Regions from separate parts of the Homo sapiens genome. Here region 2 is linked to region 1. Evidence: fine-mapped expression QTL. A gene starts in region 1. The other region holds a variant in brackets. All regions are shown on one strand. Distances are from middle to middle.

Region 1 (4,390 bases):
GTCCCACCTCACACATCTGGGTCCCCAGGCAGAAGACAGACCCATGCCCAGACGTGGACGCTCCAGAGTGGGCATGTTAGGAAGGGGGACTCCGAGGGATTGGTGGCGGGATTGGACATGGCTGTGTGCACAGACTCTTCTGACACCTTAGGAAGGTGCAGGGACAGGGTTTGAACGCAGGGCTGACTGACCCTAAAGCCTCCTCATGTCTAATTGGGGGCTCTTAGTGTCCAGGGAGCCCTGGACGGGTGCCCACTGGCCTCACACTGTCCCAGCCTCCGAGGCCTCCATGATCTGCTAAAATCTCCCTCTACCTTCCAGATGCTGCATTGACTCAGCTGCTCTGAGAGGCCAGGAAGGAGCAGCTGGACTCCTCCCTCCTCAGAGGTGCCCACCTTGCCCCTGCCCTGGGGAAGGTGCTCCACTCTCTCACTCTGGCTCATATGCAGGCAGCCTTGCCTCTTCTTGGTAGAGACAGTAAGACCAGTGCAGGGCTCCACTGCAGCCTCCCAGAAAATGCCTGGAACCAAGGACCTGAGAACTCTACCCCTTTATGGAAGACATCAAAGGGGAGACATGTCAGTGGCTCTTAGAGAAGAAGGAGATGATCCTGGAGGCTTCTGTGCTCCCAAGTGTCCTCACCATTTGGCTGTGACTCCCTCCAGAAACTAGATATCTAGTTCTAGATATGTGCTATGCTATCATATAATAATATCATACGATAGAACAATATAATAATATTCTATCATTACTTGGAATATACACAGTCCCAATAAGAGGGTCCTAAACAGGCTGGGCGCAGTGGCTCACACCTGTAATCACAGCACTTTGGGAGGCTGAGGTGAGCAGATCACTTGCGGTCAGAAGTTCAAGACCAGCCTGGCAAATACGGTAAAACCCCATCTCTATGGAGAATACACAAATTAGCCGGGTGTGTTGGCGGGCATCTGTAATCCCAGCTACTCAGAGACTGAGGCAGGAGAATCACTTGAACCTGGCAGGCAGAGGTTGCAGTGAGCCAAGATCGTGCAACTGCACTCCAGCCTGGGCAACTGAACAAGGCTTCATCTCAAAAAAATAAATAATTTTTTTTAAAGTGTCATAAACAGTTGAGCACAGCATTCTGTTGAATGCACACTGTCCCATTTTCTAACCCATTTCTTCACTTAAAAATAACATTGTTTATGCCCAAGTAAATTGATTTTCCATGCTACTAGCACATCCTAATCTGTGTCCTAGAAAACACTGCTGTACCCCACAGCAGCAAGGAACAGAGGCCAAGGGAGCAGACAGGGAGATGGTGCTGGAAGCAGGGTCTGCTCTGTCGAGGGAGAAGGTGGGTGCTGAGCACTCTGGTATTTATTGAAGTCATTTCTCTGCAGCCTCTTCCTGTGTCTCCTGCCTCCAGAGAGAAGCCCCTATCCGTGCTCCCCAGGAACACAGATGCAGGATCTTCCACACACACAAATCTAACCACATCCATGCCCTGCTAGGAGCCAGCCATGGTGCCTAGAGGGTGACAGGTCACCTTGCCTGGCCCGGAGGAGAACGGCTTGTCCATGCCATGTGTGGCCTGTGAGCTTGAGCGGAGGAATTCCTGCAGAAGCTGGGCAGGGGTAGGGGGGCACAGAACTGACCCAAAACAGCTCCTTCCCCTCTGTCCTCACATCCTGACCCCAAGATGGCTCTTCTCAGGGAAAATCACAACCCAACCCTCTGAAAAAGCACATTAAGGAAAAACACCTTTGAGAATCTCAGGGGGGGATGTGGAATTTCTCCACCAGAACTTCACAGTGATAATGACACCAAACACAAGAACGACAATAACCAAAATCAGGAGTTTTATTCTCCTACCTTCTCTCTCTCTCTCTCTCCTCTCACTGTCATGAACGTCACGAAGACACTGACTTTGCGTTTTCTACTCAGCACTGCATCACTGGTGTCTGACACGAAGCCTGGGACATGTAGGCTCCCAAGTGGACCTGTCCTGGGTAAATGACCATTAATGAGACAGAGAAGGAGATGAAGAGCCCCCAGAGGAGTGTTGAGTCCCAGGGGTCCCGCCAGCTCCACTCCCACCTTCCAAACCTGTGAAAGTCAGGTGCCTGAGTCACACAGTCTCTCCCACCTGAATGCCATGAGCTGCAGGTGACTGAGAAGTTACTGGATTCTTGACCATGTGTTTCGGTTGTGAGGTTGGGACCTAATGGGACCCTTTGAAATGATGTCATGGGTTAGCAATGTCCCAAGGAAACTGAGGAAAGTCATAGCTCAGTAGGATCCTGTGGAATCGCTGTGTGGACATGTGAGTGTCGGAGAGTGTTAATGCCAGGAGCATCCTGAACCTTCCTATTTTCCAGAGGACTCAGTGTGGGGGACGATTGGGGCACATAGCACAGAGAAGGTGGAGGGTGTACCGCTTCTCTCCTGATTACAAAGGTGAGATCAAAGCTACAATGACACGTACCCTGCCTGGCACCTCTCCTGCCCAAGGACCCAGCCTGTCTCTGCAGGACTTGCAGGAGGGCAGGAAATGCCATGACATCACCAGCTCCACTAGAAATATGGGATAAAAGGAGTGGCTGAGATCTGCTGATCCCCTCCTCACTCCACTGCAACCACCCAGAGCCATGGCTCCCCGAGGCTGCATCGTAGGTAAGGAGGACAGGACCCCATTCCCACCTGAGCCCATCTCCAATCTCAGCCACCACCAGGGCTCTCTCCCTACCCCAAACTACACCTCATCCCTGTTCCCATGCCCAGCCAAATCTCCAGGCGTGAATTGCTCACAGCAATTCCCCATCCATAGTGCCCAGATCAGCCCCATCCACAGCCCTGTTTCAGTCCCTGAGCTGCTCAAAGCCATACCGAGCCCTGGTTCCACCCAGTCTTCTTCTAAATGTCAGTGCCAGTCATATCTGTGGCTGTCCACTCACCCCATCTTCCCTTTCCCTTTCCCACAGCTGTCTTTGCCATTTTCTGCATCTCCAGGCTCCTCTGCTCACACGGAGCCCCAGGTGAGCCCAGGAGTGTTTGGGAAGCTGGAGGAGGGGTACACCTTCCAGGGGACCCCAGGCTGGGACCCACCTGCCACTACCTCCTGGATCTCACCAGCTCTGTCTCCTCCAGTGGCCCCCATGACTCCTTACCTGATGCTGTGCCAGCCACACAAGAGATGTGGGGACAAGTTCTACGACCCCCTGCAGCACTGTTGCTATGATGATGCCGTCGTGCCCTTGGCCAGGACCCAGACGTGTGGAAACTGCACCTTCAGAGTCTGCTTTGAGCAGTGCTGCCCCTGGACCTTCATGGTGAAGCTGATAAACCAGAACTGCGACTCAGCCCGGACCTCGGATGACAGGCTTTGTCGCAGGTGAGTCCTGTCCCCTCCGTGGGATTGTGGGTGCAGGGTAGCTGCATGCCTGTTCTGCCCTGGGTGGAGCCCCCATTCTCCTTGTCTCCCTGTCTCTGCCCCCTGCTTCTATTCAATCCACCTCTCCCTTTCCCTACACCTGTGTCTCCATCCATTTTTATTTCCCTCTCAGAATCTCACTCTCTCTACCCCGCTGTCCTCTCCTCCTGGCTCTCCTGTCCTCATTTCTGCCCATGTTCAGTCTCGCCCCCATCTCTGGCCATCTCTGTCCCGCTCAGTGTCTCTCTCTGTCACTATCTCCAGTGTCAGCTAATGGAACATCAGGGGAACGATGACTCCTGGATTCTCCTTCCTGGGTGGGCCTGGAGAAAGAGGCTGGTGTTACCTGAGATCTGGGATGCTGAGTGGCTGTTTGGGGGCCAGAGAAACACACACTCAACTGCCCACTTCATTCTGTGACCTGTCTGAGGCCCACCCTGCAGCTGCCCTGAGGAGGCCCACAGGTCCCCTTCTAGAATTCTGGACAGCATGAGATGCGTGTGCTGATGGGGGCCCAGGGACTCTGAACCCTCCTGATGACCCCTATGGCCAACATCAACCCGGCACCACCCCAAGGCTGGCTGGGGAACCCTTCACCCTTCTGTGAGATTTTCCATCATCTCAAGTTCTCTTCTATCCAGGAGCAAAGCACAGGATCATAATAAATTTATGTACTTTATAAATGAATGCTGTAGAATTCATGAATTAGAGAGCTTGGACTGTTGAAAGGGGTCACAGAGGGTGACGTGGGGCCCCTTCTCTCTGTCACCCTGAGGCATCTGGGCCTTTCCATTTGTTCTGTTCGTGCACACACTTATTTTCTCTTTTTCCATTTATTTTTAAATTTATTATTTTGTTATTTGTGCTCGGTGACTAGGACCCTGGCCGCACCTGGGACAGGGGCCACCCTCCTACACCAGCCTCCACCACCCCATGGCTCCCTGAACCCAGTCACAACATCGGGAGCAGCCCAGGTGG
Region 2 (4,390 bases), 22 kb after region 1:
TGACTCGGAGCTAAAAAGCAATTCTGGAAGATGACTGAGCTACTCTTCTTTCAACTTGAGAGAGGAAGAGAAGGAAGGAGAGGAGGGAAAAGACAGGGAGGGGAAGAGAGGAGAGTGGGGCAGTGGAGGGGGAGAGAGAGAGAGAGAGAGATTGATGGTTGCGCAAAAAGAAGCTAGTGAACACAGCAGGCATTGCTCACCTTGATGGAATACACACAACAAAACTCTGTCCACCGCCTGGGCTGCCCTTACTTGAGCACACTCCTGGGGTAGTCAGGCCTCACTCCTGGGACATGGAGCCTCACTACTGCCTGGTGCTGAGAGCCCAGGGGCTCCAGTCAGCAGTGCTGGAAGCAGGGCCAGAAGTGCAGTTAGGACCACAGAGCTGGGTCTTGTTCAAGGACAGGATGATCCCCTTATTACAGCCCCAAGAGATTGCAGATCTGGTCTCCACTCTGGAGTGTCAACTGGCACAACCACAGTCCAATATCTGGAAGAGTCAGAGCTGATGAGCTGACAGGGGACCTCTGGGAGCCCCCAACCCTATCCACAGTGCTATAATCCTCCCTCCTCTCTTCTCCCTCCGCTCACCACACCCCTTCTCATCTGTGGTCCCTTCTGAGTCTGAGCCCAGGAGTTCAAAAACAAAGATCAGCTGAGAGCAGAAGGAGAATGACAATGTTTCTGGGGTCACCGGATCATGATCATTGGGGCACAAGATGATGTCTCTGAGTTTCTTTGGTTGCTGTAACAGCTCACAGTGGATTTTGGGACTGACTCTGGATGTAGGTCCTGGGGACTGGGCTTGGCAGGTGAGGAAATGCAGGGAGGGCTCTGGAAAGGGTTAAGCTTCTGGAATTTGCAGGTGGGGAGAGAGATTGCAATGCAGTCAGAGAGGACACGGGTGATTATGAGGTGGGAAACCGAGAATTAAACAGAAAAGAGAAAATTAAGTTTGAAGTTCAGAGGTACCTTAGGGATAACATTAGGCATTAGCTCAGCTTGGGGCTGGGGATGACTTACCGAAGATTCTGGGCACCATGGTTTAGGCTTCAGAGCAGCAGATGAGAGAGCAGCAGTGGAAATGGGTCAGTGACTTTACACAGGAGATTATTATAGGGTATGAACTTACCCATATTTAGGGAGGTGTGCAGAAGGAGTGGTTTCTTAAAAAGGGTGGGGCATGAAAAGCCACAGAAAGCATAACAAAATAAAAGCATTGACACATTAGTAGGATGCTACTGGACCTGTTCCAGGGCTGTCATGTTCTCAGACAGCTCAAAACTCAGGGCATGAAGGACATTTTCTCCGGTATTCACTGTGAGAACCTCATAGGGTTCCTGGAGGTAAAACTCTTAGAAAAGTGCAGAGGCTCCCCTTAGACTGGGCCCCCTGGAATTTTTAATTCTCAGATTGCTCCACCCTGAGCCTCCAGGAATTCATTCGTTAGACTTCATGTTTTCCTATCCTGGTACTGGTTCCCACAGGGGTTTCTGGTCATGGGTTTCTGTTGCAGTAGTTTTGATTCTCTGTATCCACCTGCCTGTGTCAACAAATCTTAGGGCAGTGGTTTGCCCTGTGACCCCACTCCTCTAATGGATATAAGAAGAAGTGTTAATTGTTTCTTTGTTCAGTATTCACTTTCTGTTAAGATGGAGTGATGAGTTCCAAGTTTCTTACATGCTTGACTGGAAACTGGAAGTCCCAGAGAACATTTCTTTAGAGATGAGGTCTCACTATGTTGCCCAGGTTAGACTTGAACTCTTGGGCTCAAGTGATCCTCCCACATCAGCCTCCTGAGTATCTGGGATTATA[A/G]GCATGTGCCATAGCACCGGCTCAAAAACCTACTTTTAATAATGTTCATCCTCTGCAAGCTGAGACTTTCTTTATGACCCAACATATGTGTGGGGTTCCCAGTTTACATGATATTTACAAACACGTTGACTTTACTGGATGCTTATACGTCCTCATTTCATTGTGCTTAAAGAGGAAACTGTAGCTCAGAGAGGTTAAGTACGTTTTGAAATGCCACAACTAGTAATGGTAAACCTGGGTCCCTAAAGTCACGAGAGAGAATTATGAGAGTATGATAGGAAACTTCAAAGGTACCGAAGGCAGAAACTGCTAACAGCATTGGTCTCTGAGGAGTGCAAACGAGCAAATGAGGGGGGAGGTAAAAGGAGGGGAAGGAGATTTTTATTTTTAATTTTCAAAAACCATGTGCTGAAAGTTTTATGCTTTGCATGCATATCTCTAATAATTTAGGGTGAATTTGGGTTGGGCAAATACCCAGGAGAGTGACCAATGGCAAGACAAGACAATGAGAGAGGTAAGCGTGAGTCCTATGGGATGCATAGAGTGAGTCCTTAATTCTCTATCAGTGAGGGAAGTTGGAAGCAGGGTGGGAAGGTTGGGAGAAAGAGAAACCCTGAAGGGAACTAAGTTACTGGGAGCAGGTGCTGGTAGGTGAGTCATGCTGTGGAAGCCTGTTTGCACTGTTTCAAGGAGTGACTCTTTGGTTGGATGAAAAAGGGACGCCGTGGGTGTAGGTAGAGAAGGTGCTGGAGGGGAAGGCAGGCCCAGGTAGCAAAGGGCCTTGTGGGACAAGCTGGGAGCCTGGGTTTCATCCTAGCGGTGGTGGGGAGTCGTTCAATAATTTTTTTGGTTTTTTCTTTTCTTTTCTTTTCTTTTTTTTTTTTTTGAGACAGAGTTTTGCTCTTGTTGCCCAGGCTGGAGTGCAATGGCGCCATCTCGGCTTATCACAACCTCTGCCTCCAAGGCTCAAGCAATTCTCCTGCGTCAGTCTCCCAAGTAGCCGGGATTACAGACATGCACCACCACACCCAGCTAATTTTTTTTAATTTTTATTTTTTGTATTTTTAGTAGAGATGGAGTTTCTCCATGTTGATCAGGCTGGTCTTGAACTCCCAACCTCAGGTGATCCACCCTCCTTCGGCCTCCCAAAGTGCTGGGATTACAGGTGTGAGCCACCGCGACTGGCCATCACTCAATAATTTTAAGCAGTGAAACTCATGACCAGATTTGCATTCTTCTAAAACCAGGCCCCACTCTGTGATCCTGGCGTGTCTTCCCAGACACCCGGGACTATCACAGTCACCACTGCAGCAGGGCAGCGTTTTCCAGCACACTATTATCACCTTGCTCATGTGTTTATTTACTTTGCAAAAATATTGGTTTGTTAGTGTCAGAGACAATTCCCCATGGATCTCTTGCTTTTTTGCTGGCCTGGCAGTGAGGCATTGACTGTCCTTTTGTTCCACACTCTTTTCAAGGATGTTTGTGTAGTGTACTGCCTTGGAAGACAGAGGTAAGGTTTCCCTTTAGAGCAAAGAATACTTGTTTACTGTCCTGTATAAAAATAATACTCTCTTCCTCCAGGTCATTTAGGCTCTGATAAAACCCTAATAATTTAGATTCTGGTAAAATGCTTTCTCTTAATGGCAGAGCTTGTTAAGAAGAACAGAATACTCTGGTGTGTTTCACAGCGGTTACTTTCCCCCTTCCCACTTCATGCCAGACCATGAAGGAGATTTTTCTCCCATATTCACTGTGAGAACCTGATAGGGTTCCTGGAGGTAAAACTCTTAGAAAAATGCAGAGGCTCCCCTTAGACTGGGCCCCCTGGAGTTTTTAATTCTCAGACTGCTCCGCCGTGAGCCTCCAGGAATTCATTCATTAGACTTCATGTTTTCCTGTCCTGGTACTGGTTCCCACAGGGGTTTCTGGTCATGGGTTTCTGTTGCAGTAGTTTTGATTCTCTGTATCCACCTGCCTGTCTCTCGAAATCTTAAGGGCAGTGGTTTGCTCTGTGATCCCACTCCTCTAATGGATGTAAGAATTGTTAATTTTCTCTTTGTTCAGTATTCACTTTCTGTTAAGATGCAGTGATGAGTTCCAAGCCTCTTACATGCTTGACTGGAAGCTGGGAGTCCCAGAGAACATTTCTTTAGAGATGAGGTATCACTATGTTGCCCAGGTTAGACTTGAACTCTCAGGCTCAAGTGATCCTCCCACATCAGCCTCCTGAGTATCTGGGATTATAGGCATCTGCCATAGCACCCAGCTCAAAAACCTACTTTTAATAATAATCATCCTTTGGAAGCTGAGACTTTCTTTATGACCCATCATATGATCAATTTAGCATAAATGTTTAACATAGACTTGAAAAAAATGTATGTTCTACCACTGATGAGAGAGAGATATTTATATATTTGCATATATAAAATTAGGCCAGGTGTGTTGGCTCACACCTGTAATCCCAGCACTTTGGGAGTCCGAGGTGGGCAGATCACCTGAGGTCAGGTGTTCAAGACCAGCCTGGCCAATATGGTGAAACCCAGTCTTTACTAAAAATACAAAAATTAGCTGG

The links. PIP is the estimated chance that this variant, and not a neighbour inherited with it, causes the effect. A credible set is the group of variants that fine-mapping cannot tell apart.
Region 2: its variant is the best candidate, but not a certain one, in a credible set for the expression of IGFL1 in unexposed skin (GTEx, PIP 0.63).

The regions. Positions count from the first base shown.
Region 1 is chr19:46,227,145-46,231,534 of GRCh38, forward strand. IGFL1 (IGF like family member 1) reads left to right here and starts at 2,598. Exons shown (of 4, transcript NM_198541.2): 1 at 2,598-2,655; 2 at 2,964-3,017; 3 at 3,130-3,373; 4 at 3,677-4,099. The coding sequence starts at 2,631. The coding sequence ends at 3,686. RefSeq lists an enhancer at 1,946-3,145.
Region 2 is chr19:46,249,122-46,253,511 of GRCh38, forward strand. LOC124904728 (a long non-coding RNA gene) reads right to left here and starts at 1,086. Exons shown (of 2, transcript XR_007067273.1): 1 at 1,024-1,086. The variant A/G (reference allele first, on the strand shown) is at 1,816.